Regions from separate parts of the Homo sapiens genome. Here all the other regions are reported to be linked to region 4. Evidence: microRNA targets listed by miRTarBase, many of them from high-throughput screens and not tested one by one. Region 4 holds a microRNA gene; each other region holds the end of a gene's coding sequence.
Evidence for each region. Region 4 holds the annotated microRNA hsa-miR-1305 (UUUUCAACUCUAAUGGGAGAGA, at 1,717-1,738, opposite strand). A microRNA usually pairs through its seed, bases 2 to 8, with sites in the 3' UTR of a target mRNA and lowers its output. Matches are read on the target gene's strand: a 7mer-m8 pairs with bases 2 to 8, a 7mer-A1 pairs with bases 2 to 7 and ends in A, and an 8mer does both.

Region 1 (3,119 bases), not on the chromosome of region 4:
TTTTTTTCCCCCAAATGAAAATACATGAAAAGAGAAAGATACTATTTTAAGTCAAGTTTATACAGTGACTTTTCTGGTTTTGTTCAGAACAGGAATACTGTATAAATTAATCCCTGCTCCTGCCTACTTCACAGAATCAAAATGGCAAAAGCCAAGAACAAGTGTATTTAAAGGAAATGAGAACAAGAATAACAGAAACTGAGTTACTAAGGGGTTTCAACTGATATCCAAAATGAATCTTTACTTTTATTTTAAACTTAAACAAAAATTAATACCCACAAATTATCTTCTAATACAAGAATCATTCTGAATTCCAAAGTGAATCAACTGCTTCTAAAATTTAGGATGATCTGACATACCCAAAGGAGAAGATCAGTCCAAATCTGCTTATAAGAAGGTTGTAGTACAAAAATTAGCTGGACGTGGTGGCGCGTGCCTGTAGTCCCAGCTACTCAGGAGGCTGAGGCAGGAGAATCGCTTGAACCCGGGAGGTGGAGGTTGTAGCGAGCCGAGATCAACCCACTGCACTCCAGCCTGGGCAACAGAAGCAGACTCCCTCTCCAAAAAAAAAAAAAAAAAAAAAAAAAGAAGGTTGGAGGCCAATAATGTTGCCTTTTACTGTTATGCAGAGAAATGAAAAATCTTGGGACTCTGTCAGACATACAAAAGTTTCTTTCCTTCTCCCAATAAACAATAGGCATTTAAAGTGGAAATGTAAAAGGGTTTTAAGTAAAAGTCAAAAAGCAAACAAAAGCCAAAAAAAAAAGAAAAAGCATACATATATATATATATATATATATATATATATATTTTTTTTTTTTTTTTTAAAAAAAGAAGACAAATGTATAAGAAAACTGGAAAAAAAAAAAGCCTCACCTTCATTCAGTGCTTCTACCACCTCCCAATCGGTCAATTTATCGCAACAGCTGCGCTCATGCGAAAAAATCCTTAAAACATACCCAATATATATACAGATATAGCTATGTATATATGTATATATATAATATATATATAAATTTTTATTTAAATAAAAAAGAAAGCTCGAATCCCAAGCCAATATGTGTATATCAAATCCTTGACCAGCCAGGTCTGTAGGGCATAATCAAATTCAATGTGAAATAGTATATAAACACGGTGCCTTGACTGGGCAAATTAAATAATTGCTACTCAAAAGAGTGTTCTGTTTGGACTCTCCTACTGGTAGGCAATGGCAGGACTGTATTACCCTTCCCACCCCCACCACCCATTTGTTTAAGTTAACAGTATGATGGACACAGAGCTTAGACTGAGGTTGTTATGACCTCAGCAGGAGTTAAGGGTTAAGAAAATAAGAAACAAGAAAAATATAAACTCTTGTTTTTACTCAACCAAAGCAATGTAGTAACTTATTACATAACCAGTGCTTTCTAATTTAGTAGTAAAATACAGAAAGGGAAACTGAAAAAAATCAGGCAAATAGAGGAATGGAGAGGGCAACTATATCAAACAGTCCCCACTAAACACGTTTTATAGGGTCTTAGTTAATTAAGCACAGACACATGGCATCAGAATATGTGCAGCAGAATTAAAAAAAAAAAAAACCTTACTCTTTTCAATATTTTCATGAAGAAACATTTGCAACATTGGACAGTTAAGTCTATGAAAAATGACTTCAAACTATTTCCTACCTACTTATACTAATGATTCTGAGCAACAAGTGATCAATTCATAAACTATCCTTAAGACTCAATCAGTTCACAAGTAAAACAAAACATCCATTAAAATAATGTGGCTCTATTCATTTTAAGTTCAAATCAAATGTTGCAGTTTTAAAACATAGTTGATTGTCCTTGTTTTTTAGCATCCTATGATGTCAGCAAAAGTTTAATTTGAAAAGCACTGCTTCAAATTTCCAACCATGAGCTGAACGCAGGCGAAACACCAAACATGTATTTTCAGTGCTAGTAAGTTACAGTTAATTCTTGATCAACATTTAAATCTAATTAAACACTGAATCAGCTTTCTGATTATATTAAGAGAATGCAAATGATCCTTAATATGAAAATGAGGACTTCAAAATTGGTAATTCTATTTGAAAAGTTGAAAATAAAAACAAGAAATAAAACCCTCCCAAACAAACAAAAAGCTTCAATGTCAAGAAAAATATACGTATCCAATGAAGCTAGTGATCTAGAAAGGGATAAAGAATTCCAAATAACAGCTCTGGGAAAAGTTGGTTTGCTGCACATTTTCTAATAACTCAGTCTAGTACTGTCTGTTTCTCAAGCACCACAGAATTCTCTGAAAGCTGACATTTTTGGTCTGTTTTAAGTTTATGGGGTGGTGAGAATTGATAAGGATTGGGGGTGAGGAATTATACAAATTATACACTGGGTATGTAATACCAAAATACAAGAAAACCTACTTCATTAAGATCATACAATTAATCAAACAGAGTGTATATATAATATCTTTTTTTTTTAAAGCCCTGGATCCAAGGCGTCCAAAGTTATTAAAATAAAGTTCATTCACAGAACAAAAACAAATTTAATCTGAATTGCTTGCAGATACTGCTAATTTTCTTTTTCTTTAAATTAAAAAAATGCATTAATGTGAACTATGTGCAGGGTTTGTTTTTAGTAGTGGTGTTTGTGCACATTGCCTCTGGTGAATTTCCTGGATTTCTCTGACCGCTCTTAAGAGAAAAAGTTTAGAAGTTATGCGTTCTCCTACCCCTATGCCCGACAAACTGATTAGGAGCAGAAGATAAAAGTAGGACTCCTCATATTTTAAGGAGCAGAACTGGGAGTAACTCCTGATCTCTGGGAGTCATTATTATCCCCTCCTCCCTCAGGGTCCTCTGACAGGTTCAGAGAGCTGGTCTTGTTTGATAGGAGGCTGATATTCTCTTGTGTCAAGGCTGATCCATTTGGTACATCACTGCTGACATTTTAAAATTTTGAAAAAGGAGAGAGAGAAAAATGATTACTACAATAAAATCAACAGGGGATATAATTTAGCATGATTGAAAATATATAAATGGCTTCCACATTTTAATCTACAGCCCCTTATCCATGTTTTAGCACACAGTTGGCAAACTAAAGCTAGCCAGGTGCGTATTTTTTTTTTCAGGTGCATAT
Region 2 (3,000 bases), not on the chromosome of region 4:
TAAATATTCATTGAGACTCAATATGTGCTTTGGGAATAAGGCATAGTTTCTGCTTCATGCACCTTCCTGTCTACATCTGCTTCTTTGGGGTAGGTGTGGTGTTCATCACATTGTCTCAGTCACAGTCTCCCCAGGGACACACAACCTAGGAGTATACATTTCTACTCATTCCAACCATCATCACCAATTTACAAACTCATGTTGCTACTTAGCATTTAGACATTTACTTTGTCCAAATGGGAAGTTGGATTGCACTGATCATCTGTCTCTCTGTCCTTCCAGCTGCAGCAGTTTTTCAGTAACATGTTGGAGGAACACCAGAGGATCAGAGTTCATGCCAACTTACAGACAATAAAGAATGAAAATCTGAAAAACAAGAAGCTAAGTGCCAGGATAGCTGCGTGGCTAAGGAGAAACACATAGCTTGTGGCTATCTTTCAGCACTCCTCTTGCATATTATAATGTAGTTTGTTCACAGTTTTGTCTTCCAATACTTTGTGAGTCTGGAAAACCACACATTTTATTTGTATTTCAGTCACATTTATTACTCAGAGTGCCATTCTTCTCATATTGTCATGTTTGGCCCTGAGGGTGGGTGATTGCTGACAATTTTGCCAATGCTGCTGTATTTCTGGGAAAGATGTCACTTCATGTTGGGTTATAATCCCACAGAATTTACTTTAAATGTCACGTAAAAACAAATTCACCTAAGATAGTCTTGCTTATTTTGTTGCGAAGGCCAGTGGAATATAAAAATCAATGGCATTAATGAGGAGCACATTCTTTGCTGAGGGAAATAACAGTTTTTCCAGGCCCTAGGGTTTATTTAGTTCAACATTGAAGATTGAAAAGACTAATGAGAAGATAACATGACAATATAAAAAGACAGAAACTCAAAAAGTATATTCACTAGAAGACAGTGGAGCCAAAGAAAAGCAAGTTGAAAAAGAAAGAGGAGACAATTTAACGAGCCCTAAAGGCAAGAAGTGTGTCTTCTCCTGCCCATTTCTCTCTCCCACAGTACATCCTGCATTGAACCACGTGTTGCTGGTTACTAAACTTTATGGTGTCACAAAAAGACAAATGATTGTAGGATCCATGGAAGTGCACTTAGGCTTGCTGTGGTGGAGGCCATAGTGGAGATGAAGGCTCTGCTCTGAAGCTCTTAATTGTGTATTCACCAGTGGGATGGACACCCTTTCAGCCTAAGCGTACGAGTGAAAACAATGATGTCAAAAGACAATAGCAAGTATAGGCTACTATTTAGGGCAAAAGGAATCTTGAAATGAAAGAAACAGAACTAAAAGGCTAACTGGAGCATAATCCTTACAGTTTTGCACTCAGGGGATTAAGTTTGAAACATAGTGTCTTTTGGCCAAATTGAACCTACTTGTAATGTGGACCAACTTACTTTACACATTTTCATCAGTCCCAATGTATGGAATTAGCTTAGTTTTCTCATGCTTGATTAAAACAAGACAACTAAAGCTAATCATTCCTCTTCTAGACTTTGTGTATATGATTTAATCTTTTATTTTTATTTTTGTAGAATGGGGGTAAAACTACAAATCTCCTCCTCAGGGTGATATTTTTAAAGATTAAGGAGTATGACATCAATTAACAGTCTTTAAAGATGTTACATACGCTCAAAGCAATGTGATTAAGACTTTTTGCCTATTTCTTGTATAAGTTAAGGCAGCCATAAATGAAAATACAAAACAAACGTTTGCTTTTGTATTTGATTCACAAGAGGATTCTCCCTGAGTGTCAGGGGAGGCTGTGGGACTTCACCACGTGGACAAACGAAAGCACAGGCTACTCAGACTTGGCCACAGGTCATAGGTCAGAGAATTTTTTCTTCAAATGTAGAAATGTAAATTTTCAGCAATAAAATATCTGCATGCCTACAAAGTGTTGTAGCTGAGATACCTTCCTGTTTTTTTTCTTAAACACTCATTCTATATTTCCCATATTTCCTCTGATAATGAATCTCATCTTTCAATAACTTTGTCTTCACTTGTCCTCTCAACTGCTTTTCTCTTCCTCTTCTTCTTCTGTGTCTTAGTCCATTTTGTGCTGCTGTCATAGAATACCTTAGACTGGGTAATTTATGAAGAACAGAGATGAGTTTCTTACCATTCTGAAGGCTGGAGATTCCAAGGTCGAGGGGCCTGCATCTCACTAGGGCCTTCCTGCTGTATCATCCCATGGTACAAGGCAAGAGGGCAAGAGAAAGAAGAGGGAAGAGGACTGAACTCATCTTTTTTATCAGGAACCCTCTCCCAAGACAACTAGCCAACTCCCATGATAACAGCACTAATCTATTCATGAAGGCAGAACCTTCATGACCTAATCACCTCTTAAAAGTCCCACCTCTCAACATTGCATTGAGGATTAAGTTTCCAACACATGACCTTGGAGGGACACATTCAAGCCATACATAGCTCTCTCCTCTGTTTCCACTCCCGTTCTTTCTCTATCAAGCTGCCTCTTCCCTTCTCCCCTTTTCTCCTTTCTCCTCTTTCCAGTAATCTCTGCCTTACTTCTGCCTGGTTGTTCTTATCCTTGCTCCTTGATCTTCCTACCCAACCATGCTCTCAGTCCACCAAGCGTGCTTTGAGGCTGACACTCAGTGTCAAGAAGGCTCTGATGCCTGGTATTGGGTGATGCCAAGAACTACTGATCTTGCCAAAAGAGCATGTAGGCTGGTCTCTCCAGACTGTTAAAAGTTAAACTGAATCCTATTACATCTTAGCTTCTGTAGTAATTAAATAGTGCTGAAGGCGTTTCTCCAAAATCAAATTCCCAAATATTTAATTAATAGTCTTTCCTCTAAATATGGGGAAAAAATGGATGATATACCATTTTTACTTACTTGGATGAAGCTGGCTACTTAAGCACTGCATTTTATTATGCTTTACCTTATACAAACTATAAAAACAAGTAATTGTTGATTGGTTTCTGTGATAGCAATAATGCAGTAACAAGTCAGGGAGTGGT
Region 3 (3,000 bases), not on the chromosome of region 4:
TGTATTTACCTCCCCGGTGTATTGAATTATCCTATGGGTTTTAAATGCTTTCCTGCAGCCACCTGGACGTCAAATGATTGCCATCAGAAAGAGACAACTTGAAGAAACCAACAATGACTATGAAACAGCTGACGGCGGCTACATGACTCTGAACCCCAGGGCACCTACTGACGATGATAAAAACATCTACCTGACTCTTCCTCCCAACGACCATGTCAACAGTAATAACTAAAGAGTAACGTTATGCCATGTGGTCATACTCTCAGCTTGCTGAGTGGATGACAAAAAGAGGGGAATTGTTAAAGGAAAATTTAAATGGAGACTGGAAAAATCCTGAGCAAACAAAACCACCTGGCCCTTAGAAATAGCTTTAACTTTGCTTAAACTACAAACACAAGCAAAACTTCACGGGGTCATACTACATACAAGCATAAGCAAAACTTAACTTGGATCATTTCTGGTAAATGCTTATGTTAGAAATAAGACAACCCCAGCCAATCACAAGCAGCCTACTAACATATAATTAGGTGACTAGGGACTTTCTAAGAAGATACCTACCCCCAAAAAACAATTATGTAATTGAAAACCAACCGATTGCCTTTATTTTGCTTCCACATTTTCCCAATAAATACTTGCCTGTGACATTTTGCCACTGGAACACTAAACTTCATGAATTGCGCCTCAGATTTTTCCTTTAACATCTTTTTTTTTTTTGACAGAGTCTCAATCTGTTACCCAGGCTGGAGTGCAGTGGTGCTATCTTGGCTCACTGCAAACCCGCCTCCCAGGTTTAAGCGATTCTCATGCCTCAGCCTCCCAGTAGCTGGGATTAGAGGCATGTGCCATCATACCCAGCTAATTTTTGTATTTTTTATTTTTTTTTTTTAGTAGAGACAGGGTTTCGCAATGTTGGCCAGGCCGATCTCGAACTTCTGGCCTCTAGCGATCTGCCCGCCTCGGCCTCCCAAAGTGCTGGGATGACCAGCATCAGCCCCAATGTCCAGCCTCTTTAACATCTTCTTTCCTATGCCCTCTCTGTGGATCCCTACTGCTGGTTTCTGCCTTCTCCATGCTGAGAACAAAATCACCTATTCACTGCTTATGCAGTCGGAAGCTCCAGAAGAACAAAGAGCCCAATTACCAGAACCACATTAAGTCTCCATTGTTTTGCCTTGGGATTTGAGAAGAGAATTAGAGAGGTGAGGATCTGGTATTTCCTGGACTAAATTCCCCTTGGGGAAGACGAAGGGATGCTGCAGTTCCAAAAGAGAAGGACTCTTCCAGAGTCATCTACCTGAGTCCCAAAGCTCCCTGTCCTGAAAGCCACAGACAATATGGTCCCAAATGACTGACTGCACCTTCTGTGCCTCAGCCGTTCTTGACATCAAGAATCTTCTGTTCCACATCCACACAGCCAATACAATTAGTCAAACCACTGTTATTAACAGATGTAGCAACATGAGAAACGCTTATGTTACAGGTTACATGAGAGCAATCATGTAAGTCTATATGACTTCAGAAATGTTAAAATAGACTAACCTCTAACAACAAATTAAAAGTGATTGTTTCAAGGTGATGCAATTATTGATGACCTATTTTATTTTTCTATAATGATCATATATTACCTTTGTAATAAAACATTATAACCAAAACATTCTGTTTACCTTTTCAGGGCTGTATTGATTGGGGTGTAGACTGAACTATCCGGGGTCTGTTTCTTTTCGGTGATGAAAGTCTTGAGAAGGTAGTAATGGATAAGATGTGAGGGAGAGGAGAGAGGGAGATTTGGAGTGTAGGGTGAGTGCCCCTCTTCTTAGAACTGAATACTCTTCTTCTAATGAACTTGTATTCTTGTTTCCATGTCTTCTTCCCTTTCCTTCTATAGCAAATAAAGCATTCACTTTGTTTTGGAACACAAGTTGTCAGAAAGGCAAACTTCAGGTGAATTGTCAGTGGAGACTGCTGACTTCCTGCACTGCTATTTTCCCAGTGCAGTTACCAGAAGGATGTGACCTTCTCAGAGAAGTCATTCCAGGCAGATTAGAAACATGACCCACAGTCTCCTTGATGGTTTGGTGAGTGCCCTTAAAGAGCCTTCCATTTTCCTGGGACACAGCATCACTGTGCACAATTCTTGCATTTGAAAAGTAGCAGCTTTCTCTGTTGGATAGTTTACATCGATTTTTAAGGAGGCTATGGAGCTTCCACCCACCCTTCCAAACTCTATGTATTAGTCTGTCTCTATGTATTAGTCTGTTCTCACGCTGCTATGAAGAAATACCTGAGACTGGGTTATTTATGAAGAAAAGAGGGTTAATTGGCTCACAGTTCCTTATCGCTGGGGAGGCCTCAGGAAACTTACAATCACAGCAGAAGGCAAAGGAGAAGCAGGCACCTTCTGCACATGATGGCAGGACAGAGTGAGTGCAAGCAGGGAAGGTGCCAGACACTTATAAAACCCTAAGCTCTCGTGAGACTCACTCACTATTATGAGAACAGCATGGGGAAACCGTCGCCATGACCCAGTTACCTCCACCTGGTCCCACTTTTGACAGATGGGGATTATGAGGATGACAACTCAAGACGAGACTTTGGGTGGAGACAGAGCCAAACCATATCACCCTAGACAGAGGCTCCTCAAATATGTAAAGCCTTGTTAAATCCTGCTTTTACATTAAAATGCACCCAACAATCTGACTGCTTCTCAGTATTCTACTCCTACCACCCTGGTCCAAGCCACCATCATTTCTCACTTGGATTACTCCAATAGCCTCCTGACTGGCCTCCCTGCACTCACCCTTGCCATCCTATAGTCTATTCTCACCATAACAGCTATTGTGATCTTTTAAAAATGTGTGTCATATTTGTCACTTCTTTTCCCCAAATCATATACTATCTTCCCCTTGTGGTTGGAGTAAAGGCTAGAGCTTTTCCAATATTCTACAGGATGCTACAGGATCTTGCTCTTCACTCTCTCTGACCTCATCTCCTACTGCTTTT
Region 4 (3,119 bases):
TGAATTAAAGGTATTTTTCAAATTTATTAATAAAATTTCTTTGATTTTTAAAGCATGTATTGACCCTGATGATCACTCTACAATAGCTGTTATGGGAATAACATTTAATTTTGCCATGCAAAACTACCGATGATGTATTTTAAATAGTAAGAAGCATCAAAAGTCGCATTAGATAGTTTTAATTGAAAAGAAAAAAAACTCACTTAAAAATATTTTATGTACCAGCTCAACATAACACATGTACATCATCACTGAAATTTTACTTTGCCACTTAACATTTTCTGTGATTTATCTAATGAAATTAGCTAATGTGATTTTATTATTGCAATTTCTGCTATAAATCTTACAGGAGCTTTGTGGTTTTTTTTCTTTTTACTTGGAAAAAGATCAAAATGCTTGCAGACTTCAGATTGCTATTAGATGTAATAATTATACACTAAACTAATTACCATTAACCAAAACCTGACTTACAACTAATTAAATTTTATTACATCATCATAGAGTGTAGGCTTTCAATTTAACACAGGGCACAACTATAAACACAAGAGTCTATCAGCGTGTATATTTATTTCAAGTAAAAGGCGTAGATCAGATTTATAAAGTTTGAATTTGGCAGGGTTTGTAAACCAATTTGTCAATTTCACAAATCTGCTAATTTGCCAACTTCTAAGGAGAAAGAAAGGTGCTACTTGCAAAGCAAATACACTGGATTACACCATAATAGTTTAGACAATAGCTAAATGCATATTATACAAATATAACTACGTTATAGAAGAAAGTATGAAATGCAATGAAAAAATCATTTATTTTCAGTTCAGAGGTACATTCTATTTGTGACATCACTTATCTGACATTACCGACATACAAATTGCCAAGCCCTAGTTTCTTCTGTGCAAAACAAGTAACAACATGTATGCTATCTTAAAGGAATGAAAGACATATGAAACACAGAATCCTTAGCTGACATGAAAGTGCCAATTTGTTTACTGTTCAAGGAACCAATGAAGATCAAATGGCAAAATCAGTTGCGATCTAGTATGCATCTCAAAACAGTGGCAGAATCTCCATTCATTCTTCAATGAAAGTACACTTAAATTTGTCATTCACAACAATCGGAAACTATAAGCGATTCACTTTATAAACTTTAATTTTATAAAAAATGTTTACTTTCTACCAGATGGTAAGATTAAATTACAAAAACACTGTCAGCAAGTTGAATCCTCAGATGTATTCATTCCCACCACAGAAGCTTCAAAACCTGTCTATAATTTTGTTACTGATGTTTAGAAACAGCTGTAGCTGACATAGCTACATGTTATATATGTCAGCTTTAAAGGATTAAATATTCTTAACCCCCACAGGAGAGGTCTTTTGCTGTTAACAAACGCCAATGTAAATTACACCGGAAGTTATTACTGTAGTAGAGATATCTCACACTACATTATTTGGTAAACAAAATGGTCAAGAGTCACACGTTTCTCATTATTACTGGAAATTCTGTTTGACTTGGGCAAAAGAAAGATTTTAAATTCACAGCACTTTCTGATAATAAATATAAGATAAATTCTCCTCTAAAAAGCTCCTCACATATATCTTCATTCATATTTTAGGTGGTAGTAAATTATATATTTTTCTCTTCAGAAGAATTCAATCCATCTCAGGAGACTTCTTTTCCTCGTGCAGATTTTTACTTGAATTTTTGGGAGAATCCTGCTGTCTCTCCCATTAGAGTTGAAAAGTATCTTTACAATAAACATTCAAAACTAATGGTAGAAACAGCAGGATCTTCTGAAATGCTATACCCCAAATTTTGTACTCAGTTAAGCTATCTAAAGGAACAGAACCAACCTGACTCGCCAGACTGCAGGCTTCAAAAATCACTTGGTTTATGAATTAATCTCATTAATTTTCAAGAACCACAGATTAATAGTGGTCAAATGTACAGATCTTAGAAGATGGCATTCATTCACACCCACGTGTGTGTGTGTGTGTGTGTGTGTGTGTGTATGGCATGATTATATGACATATATCTGTCCATATACGTTTTCCCTCATATAGCTGTCACTTTTAAACATCAGTCACTTTGGACCATGTGAATGATTTTTTTAAGCCTGTAAGTATACATATAAACAAATATTCTAAAAAATTGGGCAAATACAATTAATTGTATACAGTGTGTTATTTTTTCAGAACATATACATGAATTTTTTTCAGAAGATATAAATGAAAAATGGCCAACATAAATGAAGAGATAAAATGGGCTAACTGTTGAGCAGCACTAAGAGATATCCACTTAGAGAAGAAAATTCAACACAAATTTCCAAAATTAATGCAATTATCCATACCTATAATTCATGTTCATTTAAAGTTACATCTTAAACTTTTATATACAGTATAATAATTTTATGCAAATGACTATGGTGGGGATAAGTCTCAATACTATATTAACAACAGAGACTTTTAGAGATGCTGAAAGAAACCTGTAAGGTGAAGTTTTTCATTTCTTTTAACAGAAGCTAATAGAAGTATCAGCAGCGGTTTCATAGAGATCCAGGAGCTTAACACAAAGCCTGGGTGAAAAAGAAATAAGTCAATAATTGGAGAAAACGAAGGCTAGTTTCCCAGAGAGAAGAAAATACATATGTGGGCTGGGCACGGTGGCTCATGCCTGTAATCCCAACACTTTTGGAGGCCAAGGCAAGAGGATTGCTTGAGCCCAGGTGTTTGAGATCAGCCTGGGCAACATAGTGAGACCCAGTCCCTATAAAAAATAGAAAAATTATCCAGGCGTGGTAGCACATGCCTGTAGTCCCAGCTACTCGGGAGGCTGAGGTGGGAGAATTGTTTGAGCCCCAGAGATGGAAGCTGCTGTGACCCGTGATTGCACCACTGCACTCCGGCCTGGGTGTTGCAGTGAGACCCTGTCTCGAAAAAAAAAAAAGAAAAGAAAATATATATGTGATTAAAAGTGAAGAGTAGAGTGAACATAGCTTTGGGGTCTAGTCCCTTTAGTTTATAACTACATGTAACTCACCTAGCTCTAATCGAGAGGTGTGACGGGATGAACAGAAATTCAAGTTTGTCCTTTTTACTAAATATCGTTATAATAATATCCAAAT
Region 5 (3,111 bases), not on the chromosome of region 4:
ACAAAAATGAACACCTAGGTCCCATCCCATACCTGATGAGACCAGAGGGGTCAATATCAAGACTCAAGCACAGAGACAAAGAATTGTGAAGAATAAGAAGGGTAGGGGAAAAGAATTTTTTCTCTGTTGAAGATGCAAGTTCTTTGCAATCGTATGAAGGGGGACTCATGAAGGCTTAAAAGGAAAAGTTTGGAATCATTGCCACCAAAGACGTTAAAACAAGTCAAGTGATAAAAAAAGTTTACCATGCAGCTCAAAGGGCCCACTTGAAGGCAGAGAGCAAGGATTTATAGCAGAATCAATCAACCTTTCAATAGCCAGAAGGAAGAGAGGAGGGAAGGTACTGATGAGTTTCCAAAGGATTAGCTATTAGTAAGACAGGCACTGAAGGACGTCCTGAAGGGCAAGTGTAGTCATCATTTCCTAAGGTGGCCATAACAAACTGGGTGGCTTAAAACAATGGAAATTTACTGTCTAACCTCAGTTTTGGCAGTTAGAAATCAGAAACCAAAGTGTTGATGGGGCCATGCTCCCTTCAAAGCTTCTAGGGGAAGATTCTTCCTGGCTTCCCCCAGCTTCTGGTAGCCCCAGGTTCCTTGGCTTGTGACAGCATAACTCCAATCCAATCTCTGCCTCCATCTTCCAGAGCCTCTTTCACGTTGTTTCCATCTGGCATTTTTCTGTGTGTGTGTGGGCATGAGTGTGTGAACATATGCATAAGTTTCCTTCTTTTTATAAGGACACCAGTCATATTGGGTTAGAGCCCACCCAAATGACCTTATCTTGTTTACATCTGCAAATATCCTATTTCCAAATAAGGTCATTTTCACAGGTAGCTCTTCAACATATGTTTTTGGGGAACATAATTCAACCTATAACAGCAAATATCCTGGGAAGTTGAGAACTCAGTAGAAACTGTTGAATGAGGGGGCTGCTCAGGCTGAATAGGAAGACAAGCCAAGATGGCTGATGTATAAGAAGGGGAGGAGGGGAGGAGGAGTTAGGGAAGATGCTGTAAGTTGTGTAAGAATCCTCACTACCACCATTCAACCCAGCAATCCCATTATTCGGTATATGCCCAATACCCAAAGACATCATTCAACCATAGAGACATATGCATGTATATATTCATTGCAGCACTATTCACAATAGCAAAGACATGGAATCAACCTAAATGCCCATCAACAGTAGACTGGATAAAGAAAACATAGTACATATACACCATGGAATACTATGCAGCCATAAAAAAAGAATGAGATCATGTCTTTGCAGCAACATGGATGGAGCTGGAGGCCATTACCCTAAGCAAACCAACACATGAACAGAAAACCAAACATCACATGTTCTCACGTATAAGGGAGAGCTAAACATTGAGTACCCATGGACACAAAAAAGGGAACAACAGACACCAGGGACTACTTGAGGGTAGAGGGTGGAGGAGGGTGGGGTATCAAAAAAGTATCTATTGGGTACTATGCTTATTACCTGGGTAATGAAATAATATGTACACCAAACCCCTGTGACATGTAATTGATCTATAGAACAAACCTGCACGTGTTCCCCTTAAACTAAAATATAAGTTAAAATAAAATCCTCGTTAAATCACTGCCTGAAAGTCTTTACTGAAAATCTGGGAGAAAATATATTGAAATGTTAGTAGTGCATAACTTTAATTTTTATACTTTTTGCATCTTACAAACTTTCTACAATAAGTACACATGACTTATATAAACAGAGAAAAGCAATCATTATCTTAAAAATAACTATCCAGTAACTGCCACAATCTCCTGAGTCCAGACAATCTAGAGCAGAAGGGTAGACTGAGGAAAATATACACAGTATAAAAAAGTAACAAAATCAAAACCTGAAACAAAGATCAACATCCAATAAATGCTTCTGAATAAAGGGAGAGTAGATAAGAACTGGATTTTAATCCCAACACTGCCATTTACCAGCTGGCCAATACTGAGCTAGTTACTCTAAAGAGTTCAGTTTTCTCATTTGTACAAATAGGATTTGACTTTCCATCTCACTGAGTTGTGATGAGAGTCATATGCAACAGCATATGAAGAGGCTAGCAAAAGATATTTAACAAGCGTTCAACATTCTCATGATGACATGAATAACACTGTACATACAACATACCAACTTGATAAATACACAGCACAGTTAATAGCTGAGGGCAGAGTTATGGTTGGGAAGAGAGAGAGTGCAACATAGGCAGAGTGAGGGGGGATTCCCACAATTTTCTAAGACAGAAAAGTGGGGGAATCAGTAGTTACTGGAAAGAATAGGCAATGCCTGACTGGATAGAAAAAGATTCTATGCCTTTGTCAAATTTCACAAAAGTGACTTAAGCCTATACTGCGGGATGTTCACACTACGTCCCTTTAGTGCAGTTACGGTACTTCAGGCTGCAAGTAACCAAATACAACTAAAATTGTCTTATACAATAAGGGCGTAATTATCTCATATAACAAGAAGCTTGGCATGAAGGAAATTTCAACAATTTCACAACGGCAACAAAAACTCTGTTTCTTCTACCTTTCCACCATTCCTGTGTTCTCAGTTCCAATATGGCTGCTAACATCCATATGTCTTCCCCGCACATCTCTTTAAAAGCTACAAAAAGATTTCCCAAAAGCGTCTTGGAAAATTTCCTGTCCCATCTCCATTGGCCAGACCCACCTCCCATGGGACTGCCTCTTGTGAAGCACACAAAGGGCAGATACCAAACGGTACCGTTAGGGAGACCCAGAAGATGGACCATCCAGGATAGAGACATGAAGGGCAGAAGAGGGCCCAGGGATGTGTGTCCCTCAGCTGGACTACAGGGAAGGAGTTTTGGTCAGGGGAAGAAAAGCCTCATTTCCTATCAGTCACTGGTGGAATGACTAAAGATGCTAATGGACTCAACCAAAAAAATGGCCGGAGGCGTGAGACAGAAGAACAAGAAAAGGTGTGCAGGTGCACTCCGTCCACAGCGCTGTAGAAGGAGACATTCCCAGTCCCACGATCCAGGTAAACCCCCACTCGGTGGAGAGCTGGCTCTTGCTGGGTGGGAGTTCCAGGGAAGCCTATCAAGGGCCAATAGCCAGCAGCACTCCAATA
Region 6 (3,119 bases), not on the chromosome of region 4:
GAATTGTGGATTTGTAAAGTGGACATGTCTTGGAATTTATTTTTGGGCTGTGAGTCTGCATTAGACGATTCAAGTTACACTTTGGTTCACTTGAAATAGAAACCTTCTACCTATATAGATTATGTAACAATTTAATAGACTTCTCATAAACTTATTTTTTTGAGATGGAGACTCACTGTATCACCCAGGCAGGAGTACAGTGGCACGATTCTGGCTCACTGCAAACTTCCGCCTCCTAGGCTCAAGCGATTCTCCTGCCTCAGCCTCCTGAGTAGCTAGGATTGCAGGCGCACACCACCACACCTGGCATATTTTTTGTATTTTTAGTAGAGATGAGGTTTCACCACATTGGCTAGGCTGGTCTAAAACGCCGCCTCAGCCTCCCTAAATGCTGGAATTACAAGCGTGAGCCACCATGCCCATCCTCATCAATTTATTTATTATGTTATGGATAATAAGACCAACAAAGGAAGGTCAACTAACCTGACTTGAAGCCTCCCTCCTTTTTCAAATGCAGAGGAAGGATGATAATCTGTAATAATCCCCACCGATTGTGAAAATATAACCAAGTCAAAGTTATATTAGGGAACTCACCAGTGTCCACAAAAGAAAAAGGAAATCAAATCTGTGGTGAAAAATGGCAAAGAATATTAGCCCCACATAAGCTCAGGGTACTAGATATAGAACTAGGTATTTAATATTCAGCGTGGTTGGGAGAAACAGAAATATTAACAAGAAACACAATCAGTCCCACATGTTAACACCATGTTGTAACCAAGTTGATGATCCAGGACACACCAGAGAGCAGACATAGACCCTACCAAACTTTTAATAATTATAATAAGCAAGTATTTTCTGTTTAATCTGCTGAGTGTTCTGTTACAGTTACCTTGGAGATGAGCTATTCTGGTATCGGTGACAGTTAAAAACCAAAACACACAAAACAAAAAGAAGACTGAGCCAACAGTTTTCTAGTACTATGTGCACAAAAAGTTAATATAACAGGCCTGAGACTGCAAATCTTAGAAAGGACTGCTTATAAGACTGGCCTTTAGCTGGTGTTAGGAAACACGGAGTTTGAGAGGGTTGCCACCATTCCATAACTGGTAGGCATGGTTCAAGTTATTCTGAACACTTGCTCCCCTTCTTGGAGTCTAGAATCTTGATATGTACCAGAGGGATGGTACCTACATGATTAGTTCCAATAAGAACCTTTGGTACGGGTTGATAATTAATTTCCATTGTAGACATTTCACAAGTACAGTCACAATTCAATACTGGAGGAATTGAGACCTGTTACTCCATGCACAAAGGATCTTTACAAATTTACATCTGATTCCCTCCAGATATTATACAAGAACCTTTTCCCTTTGCTGATTATTTGTATCCTGTCACTATAATATAGTCATGAGTACAACTATATTCTGAGTCCTCTTAGCAAATCATAGAATCTGGAGAGATTGTCTTAGGGACCTCCAACCCACTATGCAAATTGAGACAGCATGGATCTTCATAAAGTACCTAGCATCCTGAAAAGATACAGTCTAGAACATTAAGTATAAAAATCAAATCTATCTCTAGTAGATTTGATTATAAAAATCAAATCTATCTCTAGTAGATTTGATTATAAAAATCAAATCTATCTCTGGTAGATTTGATTATAAAAATCAAATCTATCTCTAGTAGATTTGATTATAAAAATCAAATCTATCTCTAGAGATAGATTTTGCTGAAGAAAGCCTTTTAACCTAATGTACTCAAAATATCACCACGGTGTCTATGAATGGAATGGCGCTCAATCCTGCTCTTTGTCCTAACTGGTTCCAGACTGTTAGAGGCCGCACTGCTGTCATGCTATTGTTCCCTACCCATACACACCTTTTCTTAAAAGAATCTTTGTTGATTTTTTACATCCACATGTATACCCCTTGATTTCTATCTCCAGGATTTTTCCACTCCTTCACTTATGCTTAAAGCGAGCTCACATGCATTATGTATGAGGACAGCTGAAGACACTCACCAATTTTTCTCTATATTCAAACTAGAGAATTTTTTTTTGAAAACCAATTTCCACAATCTTATTCCTTAATTTTGAGTCATGTCATACTATTATATGATACTTGGTACATATCCAAAGAAAAGGAAATCAGTATGTTAAAGTGTTATCTCCACCCCCCCATGTTTATTGCAGCACCATTCACGATAGCCAAGAAATAGGCCAAGGTATGTAATCAACCTAAGTGTCCACTGGATGAATGAATAAAGAAAATGGGGCAAATATACACATCAGAGTACTATTTAGCCATGAAAAACAACAAAATTCTATCACTCACAGCAAAGTGAATGAGACTTACAGGGCATTATATTAAGTGATATATGCCAGGCACAGAAAGATACATACCACATGTTCTCACACATATGTGGAAGCTCAAAAAGTTAACTTCATAGAAGTAGAGAGTAGAATAGTAGTTCTTAGAGGTGAGGAGGCAGGGTGGTAGCCAAAGGTTGGTTAATGAATACAGAAATACAGGCAGGTAGGAGGAATAAGTTCTAGTGTTTTACACCACTACAGGGTGACAGTAATTAACAACGTATTATTTTCAAATAGCTAGGACAGTGAATTTTAAGGGTTCCCAACATAAATAAATGATAAATGTTTGAGGTGATAGGTATGTTAATTACACTGATTTGATCATTACACATTGTATACTTGCATTAACTATCACACTGTACCCCATAAATGAGTACAACAGTTATGTGTCATTTAAAAATAATGACAAAAGCGTATCAAGATTCAAGCGCCTCTTGTAGCGCTTCCCACAGTCCTCACATTTAGATGTTTTCTCTCCACTTTGGTCTCTTTGTTGGTCTTTAAGGCATGAACTGTGCACAATGCTCTTCCCACAGTCCTCACATTGAAGTAGTTTTTCTCTACTGTGGAGTCTCTGATGGGTTAGATGAGTTGAGGCCCATCTGAAGCTCTTTCCACACTTCTCACATTTGTATGGCTTTTCCCCAGTGTGAACCCTCTGATGGGAATGAAGCTGTGAATTCTCAGTAAATCTCTTCCCACACTCTTCACATTTGAATGGCTTTTCATCACCATGGAGTCTCTTATG
Region 7 (3,119 bases), not on the chromosome of region 4:
TCCCAGCTACTCTAGAGGCTGAGGCAGGAGAATGGCATGAACTCGGGAGGCGGAGCTTGCAGTGAGCCAAGATCGTGCCACTGCACTCCAGCCTGGGTGACAGAGTGGGACTCCGTCTCAAAAAAGAAATAAGTAAATAAAAAATAAAAAAATAAAAAAAGGAGGCAGGCATGGTGGTGAGCACCTGTAATCCCAGCTACTCGAGAGGCTGAGACAGGAGAATTGCTTGAACCCAGGAGGCGGAGGTTGCACTGCGAGAGACTGTCTCAGAAAAAAAAGAAGAAAGAAATGCATGTGAAATCTTCCGTGTATGATATTAATACTTTTTTTTTCTTTTTGTTCTAGGCGAGGCAAACCTCTCTACATTTGTAAGGAAAGATACAAAGTTCTTGAGCAACAGTGGATTTCTCATACTTTTGATCACATCAATAAAAGATGGGGTCCACATTACAATGGGCTGTGACTCTCCACCTCAGCATTGCATCGTATCATCATTTTCGCTACGAATTTATTTTTCAACAATAAGCTTTAACTTAATTTGGGGGATTAACACTTTTGCTGAGGGAGAAAAAGAAAACATACATTATGAAGCCTTTCCAAAATTAGGTGCTTGGTAATCACGTTAATGGTATAATTTTTTTTTTTTAATATCTGGAGAACATTAATAACAAGTTAAATTATTCTTTAGTGGTCATTTTTTAAGTGCACAATTAATAAGAAGCACAACTTGTTCACAAACTCATTCAGAAATGATTCTCCCAACAATGCGTATCAGCTATTCATTGATACTTAGAGTGGGTGTGATTTATTTGACATTTTACTGCTTCTTTCTGTCTGTGTGTTTTAATTTGCATCTGCCAAGCATAATGCATCTTTTTTCCTCTGCCATTCTTGTGTTGATTGGAGAATTTTTCTGTATGTAATTAGAAAAAAATGTAAAACATGATTTATGTGAAATACTGTATAGTAAAAGTTGGTCTAATAGTAGAACTTTAAAATTTTTTCTTATTGTGAGGAATCTGTTAAAAGTTTAAAGCTTTGCTGAAAACTGAATTCATTCTCAGGAATTTCATAAATCTTCTCCCCAGGTAAATAATTGAAATAGCTGTAAAATAAGTAGATAGCTGCTGTTAATATAATACAGTACATTTTGGGGGGCATATGTGTGGTTGGGGGGTCCTTAAAAATCAAAATTTGCCATTTCAGTTGGATGAATTACTAGAGGTAATAACAAATCTTACTATGAAATCAAGAGGTTTAAGAACATACACTGGGCAGATGTTGATTCCGTGCATGCCCACCTTTTATTACCAAACAAGGTTTTGTTTATATGATTGTATTAGAAATGCTCAGACTTCCCCAGAAATGAACCATAAATTTTGGAACTTCCTTTCAGCTCAAGAGGTTCAGCTATATTGTATTTGTGCAGTGTAATCACTACTATTTCTGCTCGGTTTCCTAAAAGGAAAAAAAAGGCGCAGTGGTGATGACCCTCATGAATGAGCCACGCTTCTGCATTCTTCTTAGAAACTGCTGTGAAAAACAATTTATGTTTGCAGGGTTTAAAAATCAGTAAAAATGGGAATGATTGAGCTAAAACCCACTCTATGAGAAGGAAGATTACTGAAAAGCATGTGACATATTGCTACAAAGATTTTTTTTCCTAAATGATTCAGTAATTGAATGATTATTTAATATATAGTGCTATCAAGCAATCCCTGGTACTTTGGACTTCCATGGCTTGTTATATAAAATTACATTTTTACATGTAAAAATAAACTAAACAAATCTAATGATAAAATATGTCAGATCCATGTTCTAAAAAATTTTTGTAATGACATGACATTACAAGAGTATAAAAATGGACATTAAATCATGGCCTTGCATTAAAATATGGAAAGCAGAGCAGTACATATTCAAATGTATTCAGAAAGTCAAAAGATTACCTATCGTTCTACAATAAAATACATGGAAATAGCTTGCTATTTTTATATACATTTCCAAAATATTAAGATAACTTTCTGTAAGAGTCAATGATTCTGTTCGACTAAATAGCTGTCCTTTCCAACACATTGCTACTTTTTTAAATACTGTATCATAAGTTCAGCCTGTCATACTTTTTGCATTGATCGTTATGAATACCAGACCATTTGTAAGTGTGGTTGAAGAGCAAAATGCTAATTGACATCTCTAGTAAATACTGTTACAGGATTCATGAACTTGAATAATTCTACAGTTTGAAACTCTGATGCTATATATACATGGTATAATGTATTCAGACTTTGATTACTACTTATTTAAAATGGAATGTTTTATGGTTGTGCATATGGATGTGAAGTGAAAATATTAGCCTTAACTTTAAAATTTGGGTGTTTGATAGTGTTTATTTTGATATTGGTGAATTAGTCACCAGTAAATTTTAAAAAAGCACTTGGTTGAAAATTGTACTTGAATACATACATGCATGCTGCTAAACTAGAACTTTAATTTTTCCCCATAACTTTTATAAGTCCCATTTATAAACCCACTTTTAAAAATAACAGGTCCAAGTTAGAGTGATGTGTGTATATTATTCAAAAAAATGTACTGGTGTGATATCTTGTATGAATGATCATTTAAATACAGTACATTACTGTAGAAGCTAAATTGATCTTTATAATTAAGCAGAAATTACAAAACTAGGAATAATCAACATTGTAAGATATGTTAATAAAAACCTGCTGTCATTTGGTTTGTGAAAGGTCCTTAAAATGTTTACTGCTTACATGTTTTTTTTTCCCCCAAAGATATTGACAGTAATATATGTGAGTGAACATGGCTGAAAAGATCAAAGCACAACATAATTAGTAGTTGCTTTAGGGTGGAGTAAGTGTAAAGGGTTTGCTTTGCTTTTTTTCTTTTATTTGCAGAGTGAGTTCTTGCTTCTTCAGTCCTTGTCTCATAATCAATGCACATTCTTTGCTAAGTGTGTGTGTTTGGTAGGGGGAGAAGGAAATGGGTATGTAGATCTGAGGAATTGTGATCTCTGTTCTTTTCTGAAAGTTCCCAGCCAGACTTCAGAAATGTTTAGTGCTTTATGAGAATGTTTATTTTGAGTGGTTTGCATTCTTGTTTGAATT

Region 1: the mRNA of RC3H1 is a reported target of hsa-miR-1305. Seed matches in the 3' UTR shown: 7mer-A1 at 1,589-1,595 and 7mer-m8 at 215-221.
Region 2: the mRNA of LVRN is a reported target of hsa-miR-1305. Seed matches in the 3' UTR shown: 7mer-A1 at 845-851 and 8mer at 940-947.
Region 3: the mRNA of FCGR2A is a reported target of hsa-miR-1305. Seed matches in the 3' UTR shown: 7mer-A1 at 580-586.
Region 5: the mRNA of TRIM4 is a reported target of hsa-miR-1305. Seed matches in the 3' UTR shown: 7mer-m8 at 2,501-2,507.
Region 6: miRTarBase lists ZNF225 as a target of hsa-miR-1305. Seed matches in the 3' UTR shown: 7mer-A1 at 2,598-2,604.
Region 7: miRTarBase lists UBR3 as a target of hsa-miR-1305. Seed matches in the 3' UTR shown: 8mer at 2,435-2,442.

What each region holds. Positions count from the first base shown.
Region 1 is chr1:173,935,953-173,939,071 of GRCh38, forward strand. It overlaps RC3H1 (ring finger and CCCH-type domains 1), which reads right to left. Exons shown (of 20, transcript NM_172071.4): 20 at 1-2,919. The coding sequence ends at 2,769. Among named protein-coding and RNA genes, the nearest start is that of SERPINC1, 20 kb to the left of the region's middle.
Region 2 is chr5:116,025,696-116,028,695 of GRCh38, forward strand. It overlaps LVRN (laeverin), which reads left to right. Exons shown (of 20, transcript NM_173800.5): 20 at 283-1,911. The coding sequence ends at 423. Among named protein-coding and RNA genes, the nearest start is that of ARL14EPL, 5.3 kb to the right of the region's middle.
Region 3 is chr1:161,517,917-161,520,916 of GRCh38, forward strand. FCGR2A (Fc gamma receptor IIa) reads left to right here. Exons shown (of 7, transcript NM_001136219.3): 7 at 59-1,913. The coding sequence ends at 232. Among named protein-coding and RNA genes, the nearest start is that of TRG-GCC2-1, 4.5 kb to the right of the region's middle.
Region 4 is chr4:182,167,962-182,171,080 of GRCh38, reverse strand. It overlaps MIR1305 (microRNA 1305), which reads right to left and starts at 1,788; the gene lies at 1,703-1,788. It also overlaps a transcript of TENM3 not described here.
Region 5 is chr7:99,889,298-99,892,408 of GRCh38, forward strand. It overlaps TRIM4 (tripartite motif containing 4), which reads right to left. Exons shown (of 6, transcript NM_033091.3): 6 at 1,106-3,111. The coding sequence ends at 2,866. Among named protein-coding and RNA genes, the nearest start is that of OR2AE1, 14 kb to the left of the region's middle.
Region 6 is chr19:44,132,370-44,135,488 of GRCh38, reverse strand. It overlaps ZNF225 (zinc finger protein 225), which reads right to left. Exons shown (of 5, transcript NM_013362.4): 5 at 667-3,119. The coding sequence ends at 2,754. Among named protein-coding and RNA genes, the nearest start is that of ZNF234, 7.6 kb to the left of the region's middle.
Region 7 is chr2:170,081,381-170,084,499 of GRCh38, forward strand. It overlaps UBR3 (ubiquitin protein ligase E3 component n-recognin 3), which reads left to right. Exons shown (of 39, transcript NM_172070.4): 39 at 346-2,751. The coding sequence ends at 463. Among named protein-coding and RNA genes, the nearest start is that of MYO3B, 95 kb to the right of the region's middle.